2 linked regions of the Homo sapiens genome follow. Changing the gene in region 2 together with the main gene of any one other region gives a genetic interaction. Each region holds a gene or a part of one and is shown on either strand. Other genes may lie near its edges.

What was found.
Region 1: changes in JMJD8 (region 2) and NF2 together harm fitness more than expected from each alone (negative genetic interaction), as found in Homo sapiens cells (one large-scale study listed by BioGRID).

Annotation. Positions count from the first base shown.
Region 1 is NC_000022.11:29,669,633-29,673,132, reverse strand, and holds part of NF2 (merlin), read right to left. Parts: intron 1,308-3,500; coding exon 1,185-1,307; intron 1-1,184. UniProt on the Homo sapiens protein: Probable regulator of the Hippo/SWH (Sav/Wts/Hpo) signaling pathway, a signaling pathway that plays a pivotal role in tumor suppression by restricting proliferation and promoting apoptosis.
Region 2 is NC_000016.10:681,535-685,548, forward strand, and holds JMJD8 (jmjC domain-containing protein 8 isoform 1 precursor), read right to left. Parts: upstream 2,801-4,014; 5' UTR 2,786-2,800; coding exon 2,700-2,785; intron 2,622-2,699; coding exon 2,532-2,621; intron 2,376-2,531; coding exon 2,327-2,375; intron 2,248-2,326; coding exon 2,151-2,247; intron 2,065-2,150; coding exon 1,996-2,064; exon of another isoform or gene 1,908-1,995; coding exon 1,788-1,907; intron 1,701-1,787; coding exon 1,633-1,700; intron 1,554-1,632; coding exon 1,419-1,553; intron 1,341-1,418; coding exon 1,260-1,340; 3' UTR 956-1,259; coding exon of another isoform or gene 830-955; 3' UTR 748-829; coding exon of another isoform or gene 631-747; 3' UTR 543-630; coding exon of another isoform or gene 486-542; 3' UTR 347-485; coding exon of another isoform or gene 259-346; 3' UTR 136-258; downstream 1-135. Other genes in the region: STUB1 (E3 ubiquitin-protein ligase CHIP), read left to right, coding at 1-69, 259-346, 486-542, 631-747, 830-955; GATOR2 complex protein WDR24, read right to left, coding at 3,200-3,368, 3,458-3,642, 3,723-4,014. UniProt on the Homo sapiens protein: Functions as a positive regulator of TNF-induced NF-kappa-B signaling. Regulates angiogenesis and cellular metabolism through interaction with PKM.

The DNA of each region.
Region 1 (3,500 bases), on a different chromosome or scaffold from region 2:
CTGACAAGAAATGACAAGCCACATTCCCCAACTTTTCAGAAGGGCCCTTCGGGCTGCACCCATGGGGAGTAACAAGAGCACCTTCTCTGAGTACCCACCTCAGCTCAGGCTTATGCTTCACGTGGAGAAAAACAACTTAAACTCTGTTCTTTCCCTTTAAATCAGTGGTTAGAACCAGAGGAGTTTTTTGTCCCCTGCAAGAGACATGTGGCAGGTGGGGCACGGTGGCTCACGCCTATAATCCCAGCCTTTTGGGAGGCTGAGGCGGGCAGATCACCTGAGGTCAGGAGTTCAAGACCAGCCTGGCTAACATGGTGAAAACCCATTTCTACTAAAAATACAAAAAAAAAAAAGCTGGATGTGTTGGCGCGCACCTGTAATCCCAGCTACTTGGGAGGCTGAGGCAGGAGAATCGCTTGAACCCAGGAGGCGGAGGTTGCAGTGAGCCAAGATCATGCCATTGCACTCCAGCTTGGGCAACAAGAGTGAAACTCCATCTCAAAAAAAAAAAATAAAAGTACAGCTGGGCACGGTGGCTAACACCTATAATCCCAGCACTTTGGGAGGCTGAGGCGGGCAGATCACGAGGTCAGGAGTTCGAAACCAGCCTGACCAACATGGGGAAACCCCATCTCTACTAAAAATACAAAAATTAGCTGGGCATGGTGATGCATGCCTGTAATCCCAGCTGCTCAGGAGGCTGAGGCAGGAGAATTGCTTGAACCTGGGAGGTGAAGATTGCAGTAAGCTGAGATCGTGCCACTGTACACTCCAGCCTAGGCAACAGAGCGAGACTCCGTCTCAAAAAAAAAAAAAAAAAAAAGAGACATGTGGCAATGTCTGAAGATGTTTTGGATTGTTACAAATGGAGGGTGAGGTGCTGCTACTGGGATCTAGTTCCTACAGCAAAGGATGGTCAGCCCCAAATGTCAGTAGTGCCCAGGCTGAGAAGCCCTGCTATAAAGGCAACCTCGTGGTGAAAGTGGAGTTTGGCTGCACATAAGCTCAACCTAAATCTGCTTCTGCCAACACAGGTGAAAAGAAAAGGCACTGATTTTTTCAAAGCTGAAATTAAGTATTTCAAAGCAAACGCTGCTAACTCATGGTTTTCAGGAGACCAAGCTCCAGAAAAGCCAAGGAAGTCCCCAAGTAGCCTCCTGGAACCCCAGCCCCTCAGAAATCACCAGTGCTTCGTTGGCCATTGTTGCTTCTTCTTTCATCTGCAGCAGCCTCCTCTCCAACTCATCCCTCGTGCGTTCAGCCTCCTCCCTCATCTGCTTCTCTCGAGCGAGGCGCTGCCGCTCCATCTGCGAGGGGTGAAGAAAAACAGTCATTGAATCACAGGGCTCGAGACCTAGGGTGCCACAAGGGCCCAAAGATGCCCCATCTCCAGTCTCCCCTTTTGGGACCTTTTTCCTTCCCTTTCCTTTAGGTAGCCAGGGTCATTCTTATTGCCCCCCACCCCGTCCTTCTAAACCAGTTGCAGAGTTGAAAGCTGTGCCACTTGAAAAACAGTCTAGTGGTGAATGAACAAATGAACAAACAATAAAAACCTGTTGAGTCTTGACCCGGATAGAAAAAGGCATTCTTTTTTTTTGGTGGAGGGGACAGAGTTTTGCTCTGTCACCCAGGCTGGAGTGCAGTGGCGCGATCTCGGCTCACTGCAACCTCCGCCTCCCAGGTTCAATCAATTCTCCTGCCTCAGCCTCCCGAGTAGCTGGGACTATAGGCACCCGCCACCATGCCTGGCTAATTTTTGTATTTTTAGTAGAGATCAGGTTTCACCATATTGGCCAGGCTGGTCTTGAACTCCTGACCTTATGATCCACCCACCTTGGCCTCCCAAAGTGCTGGGATTACAGGCATGAGCCGCCGCGCCTGGCAGAAGGAGGCATTCTTATACACGGTGCACTGAAATGGCTACCTTGCCAATGTTGCTTTTTGTTGGGAAACCCCAGGTGGCTCTGCCCCATGGCCGATGGGATGCAATGCAGGACCTCCTCCCTCAGATAGAGCCCCAGAAATAAGCAGCTTTCTCATCTGGGCAGGCAAGCCATCTCACCATTTCTAATCCACATGGACCCCTCTCACATCTCTGATTTCATCAACAATAGCTCCACTCTTGCCTCTGACCCACAGAGAAGATGGAATCATTCTACGTGATGCATCAATAGTTCACACATTGTATTTCACAGGGGGGAGCTGCAACAGCCACAGCACAGACTTGCACAGCCTCATGTGGAGACAACTCCTGAGCCAGGCCTAGGACAGGAGGGAGCCAGGCGGGAAACACAGCCCCGTGTCCTTAAGGCAACAGCACAAAGCCACCACTACCTCCCTTGCCTTCTGGATCACTGCATTAATTGGGCCACATGCTGAGCTTAATAAGGGGAACAAGCACAAGACAGTGCCATTCCTCTGTGATCCCAGGGTACTAACTGAGTTCAAAAAGCAGAACCCAGAAGTGACCACTGCACTATTTTCTGCCTTAAATAATTAAAGCACATTTAATTACTTCTTGCTTCAATCTTATCCCACACTCTGGTCATACAAGGTTTCTAAGACTGCTGCTTTTTCTAAATCCTAAGCCAAATACACACACACACACACACACACACACACACACACAAGCTCAAAAAGATAATGCAAAGACAAGCAATAAAACAGTGAAAGTTCTTCTCCAATTTTCTCCTTGTAAGTCAATGAAAAGCTTGGCCAATTTGTTCTCTAATTTCCATCATATTACAATTTCCATAAGGTGGCTTACTACATATCTACAATTCTTTTAAAAAAAAAGAAACTAAGAAAGAAAGAAAGAAAAAGCCCAGTCAGGCCAGGCAGGCATAGCAGCTCATGCCTGTAACCCTAGCACTTTGGGGGGCTGAAGTAGGAGGAATGTTTGAGCCCAGGAGTTTGAGATCAGCCTGGGTAACATAGCAAGACCTGATCTCTACGAAACAATTAAAATTAACTAGGTGTGGTAGCATGCACTTGTAGTCCCAGCTACTTGAGGGGCTGAGGCAGAAGGATTGCTCAAGCCCAGGAGCTTGAGGTTACAGTGAGCTATGATGGCACCACTGCACTCCAGCCTCAGTGACAGAACAAGACCCTTTTATTAAAAAAAAAAGCCAGGTAATCTCCTTCAGTTCCTGGCCCTGTACTTTCCCTGAGACCTCTACCCCAATATAAAAGACCTCCTATTCACAAAAGAAGTTTACTGCATACAAAGACTGTAAGGTGTAATATACGTCCCTTCATCTGAGATGGAGAAGGTATATCATTAGTTTCACCTGATGGATGAGAAAACTAAGGTCTGGAAGGTAAGTCATTGACTTACTCACATTCTAAATTTCAGATCTGGCTCCAAGGTCAGTGTCTGTCCACCTGATCTGTGGTTGCCCAGATGCCAGGTTTGTGGCTCTGCTGTGCTGTAAGCAGTGCCGATCTGCAGTGTTCCTGCTATTCTCTGCCAGGGCCCACAGACTGCATATTCCCTGACA
Region 2 (4,014 bases):
GCGGCGCATCCACCAGGAGAGCGAGCTGCACTCCTACCTCTCCAGGCTCATTGCCGCGGAGCGTGAGAGGTGGGACCCTCACCCCAGGCCGCCCTGTCTTGGGATAATTCTGAATCACCGACTCCCGACACAAGCGTTTATCGAAGGCTTTACTGGCAAGCAGGAAATGTGGGGAAGTGTGGATGTTAGCTCTGAGATTGGGGTGTGGTCAGACATCTGGCCAGGTCCATCTCTGACCGGCTCCTGGTCAACCCCCAGGGAGCTGGAAGAGTGCCAGCGAAACCACGAGGGTGATGAGGACGACAGCCACGTCCGGGCCCAGCAGGCCTGCATTGAGGCCAAGCACGTGAGGGTGCCCCCCACCCACATGTGGGTCTGTGTGTGTGCACGTGGCGTGGGAGCATCCCCGCCTTGTGTTGGGTCTGTGCCCCATGGAGGAGGGAGGTGGGGTGTCTCCCCCAAGCACAGCACTCAACTCTTCACAGGACAAGTACATGGCGGACATGGACGAGCTTTTTTCTCAGGTGGATGAGAAGAGGAAGGTGAGTGTGTGTCGCTTGCTGCCGATGGCTGGCAGGTGCTCGTGCAGTGCCCCTTTTCAGCCTCTGACCGTGTGCCCCTGTGCCACAGAAGCGAGACATCCCCGACTACCTGTGTGGCAAGATCAGCTTTGAGCTGATGCGGGAGCCGTGCATCACGCCCAGTGGCATCACCTACGACCGCAAGGACATCGAGGAGCACCTGCAGGTGAGGCCTGCGGCTGGGGGAGCAGGGCCAGTGGCATGGTCCTGGGCCCCATGACTGCCCTCTGCCCTTCTTGTCACTGCAGCGTGTGGGTCATTTTGACCCCGTGACCCGGAGCCCCCTGACCCAGGAACAGCTCATCCCCAACTTGGCTATGAAGGAGGTTATTGACGCATTCATCTCTGAGAATGGCTGGGTGGAGGACTACTGAGGTTCCCTGCCCTACCTGGCGTCCTGGTCCAGGGGAGCCCTGGGCAGAAGCCCCCGGCCCCTATACATAGTTTATGTTCCTGGCCACCCCGACCGCTTCCCCCAAGTTCTGCTGTTGGACTCTGGACTGTTTCCCCTCTCAGCATCGCTTTTGCTGGGCCGTGATCGTCCCCCTTTGTGGGCTGGAAAAGCAGGTGAGGGTGGGCTGGGCTGAGGCCATTGCCGCCACTATCTGTGTAATAAAATCCGTGAGCACGAGGTGGGACGTGCTGGTGTGTGACCGGCAGTCCTGCCAGCTGTTTTGGCTAGCCGAGGAAGGTGGAGATGAAGACGCTGGTGTCAAGGTTGAGCGTAGCATGCCACCAGCGGTCGGGGAAGTACAGCACCTGGTGGAGGAAGGGGGTGCAGCAGAGATTAGCTGCGGGCCTCTAGCCTGGCCTGGCCCTCTCCTGCCAGCCACTGACCTCACCAGCCCGGATGGTACACTCCAGGGGCCGTGCAGACGGTGGCAGGGCTGGGTATGTGTCCCGGAGCCAGGCCAGCGTGGTCTTGTTGGGGTGGAACTCTGGCGTCTTCTCAGGTGGGTAAAGGAACCAGCGCTGGGGGCATGAGCAGCAGTGTCACCCTTGCCCGTTTTGGTCAGCGAGTCCCAAGCCTCAACCCCCACCCCGTGCTGACCTTACGACCGTAGATCACTTCTGAGTACCCGGGTCCATGCCAGTGGAAGGGCACCCCCGAGCCAGCTCCTGTGGGGTTATGAGCACCTGGTGACCAACCCATTTTGTACTCACCGACAGAAGCCTCAGTCCTTCCCAGTCCCAAGAAGCACCCACCTGCGATTCCAAAGCTGTAAGCTGGAGCGGTTCCCAGCAGGCCAAATGGGGGTGGGGAGTAGTGCCGAAAGAGAGAGGCCCACTCGGTGAAGTTGTTGTCCCCGAAGAAGTACAGGGTGTCTGCCAACAGAGACGGCGGGGACAGGGATCCTGGCACCTGGAGACTCCAAGCGTCCCCACCCCCTACCGCCGCCTAGGGCTGCCTCACCATTGCCCAGGGAGGTGGGGTCCTGGGGGTGCAGCAGCTGCTCCACATACTCCTGGAAGGGCAAGTCCACTGCAGGAAAGAGACGGGTCAGGACCGTCTGGTCCAGCCGCCCCGGTGTTGGCAAATGGGCGGGCCCCAGGGGTGAGGCCGCGTACCTTTGTGGTAGGAGTAGGTGTTGGCGGTGCTCAGCCGGACCACTCTGTCCCCAAACGAAGCCAGCAACCTGTCGCGGGAGCACAGGGCCCGGAACCTCTGCGGGGGCGGGGAGGGGACTTAGTGGCCGGGCCCAGCACGGGCGAGAGTGGCCGGGGACGGACGGGCACGCGCTCACCGAGTTGTCCGTGAGTCCCTGCAGGATGACGGGCCTGACGAAGGCGTACCTGGAAAGAAGGGCAGAGTCGCGGCCAGGCCGGACCGCCAGCCTCGCCGCCCCAGCCCCACGCGTGCGCGCGAGGTCAGGGGAAGGCGGCCTTGGGCGGTCGGGGCAGACGGGCCGGTGAACAGGACGCGACCTCCGCGATCAGGGGCGCACGTACTGCTGCACGAACTCCGCGTAGGTGAGGTCGGCCCGACGCTCCACCGTGCAGCGCTCCTCCTCCGCCACGGCCCCCGGCCCGCCCGGGCGCCTGCGGGCACAGCTGGGTCAGCCCGCGCCCCGCCCGCCGCACGTGACCCCACCGCCCGGCCCCTCCCGGGCCGCTCACCACCCGCCGTCGCCCTCCGCCCCGGAGCCGGGTAGAGCCACAGCCGCCAGCGCCCAGAGCGCGAGCAACCGCGACGCCGGCGCCATGAGCCTGCCGCCCTCAGGCAGCCGCGCTGCACGCCGGGAACCTTGGGCCCATCCGCCAGCCATTGGCCGGCAGCTTCGTCGTCGTGGCAACGGCCGGGAACCGGGACGGACCCCGGAAGTGACCTCCTTTGGCCCGCCCCGGAAGAGGCCTCTACGGGAGGCACTGGGAAGGCCGCCCCGAGAGCGACTATGGGCGCCGCCGGTTACCATGGCGACAACCCCGCCGAAAGCCCCCGCCCGCCAGCTGCCCCGCGGGCCTACGGCGAGCCCGCCGCGCTATGGGGTGACACGCAGTGCCGACAGCGGCTCTACTTCCTTTATTGAGGTCTCAAGTTCCAGCCTCCGCCCGTCTCGGGCACAAGACCAGGCGGGGTTCTGCACGCGGCCGCCCGGGCAAGCCCAGCAGATGCCCCGTCAGGAGTACTCGCAGAGGTGGCCGCAGCCTGCGGGACAGTGGGAGCTGCCTTCCAGCCACTTCATGATGTGCTGCAGGTGGCCGCCGTGGCTGCAGCCCTGGCACCACACGAAGAGACCCTTGACTACGTGGTGGCAGACGGCACACATGCTGGCGCAGCGGTGGCACCTGGGGGCGGGCGGGAGGGAGGGTGCCTCAGCGGGGGCTGCTGCGCTGCCTGCAGGCCCCTGCCCCACCTCCCGACCCCACTGCCCCACCTGTCGCAGACCCAGCCCCGGCTGCTCATGGGCCGCTTGCAGTGGCTGCAGTTGACGTGCAGGGTGGTGGAGGCCTGGTTGAGGCAGCTGACGGCGCGGCTGGTGCTCAGCTTGACCACCTCGTTGGACACGTTCCAGAGGCGGAAGCGCTGCAGCAGGTCGATGTAGGAAGTGTACCAGTGCTCCTGGGGGAGGGAGCGCCCGGCAGTCAGGATCTGGGTGCCAGGGGCGGCGCTGCAGGGGGGAGGCCCCGCCCACCACACACCTGGGTCTGCTCGTCGATGTCCTTGCGCACCCGTTCACCCAGGACGATGAGCACAGACACAGCCATCTGCACGTCGCCCTGCTCAGCGTAGAAGTGCAGCATGTCGCGCACCAGCACGCCGAAGAAGTCGGGCGGCAGGCGGCTGTCGTAGAGCGCGTGTGAGACAGACAGGAGCGAGAAGGAGGAGTCCACGGGGGCCAGGGAGGCCACATCCGCCTCGCTGCCGCTCACGTGCGGGGAGTCGGCCTTGTCCTGCAGGTGCTCGGGCCCGGGAGGCGTGTCCACGATCTCG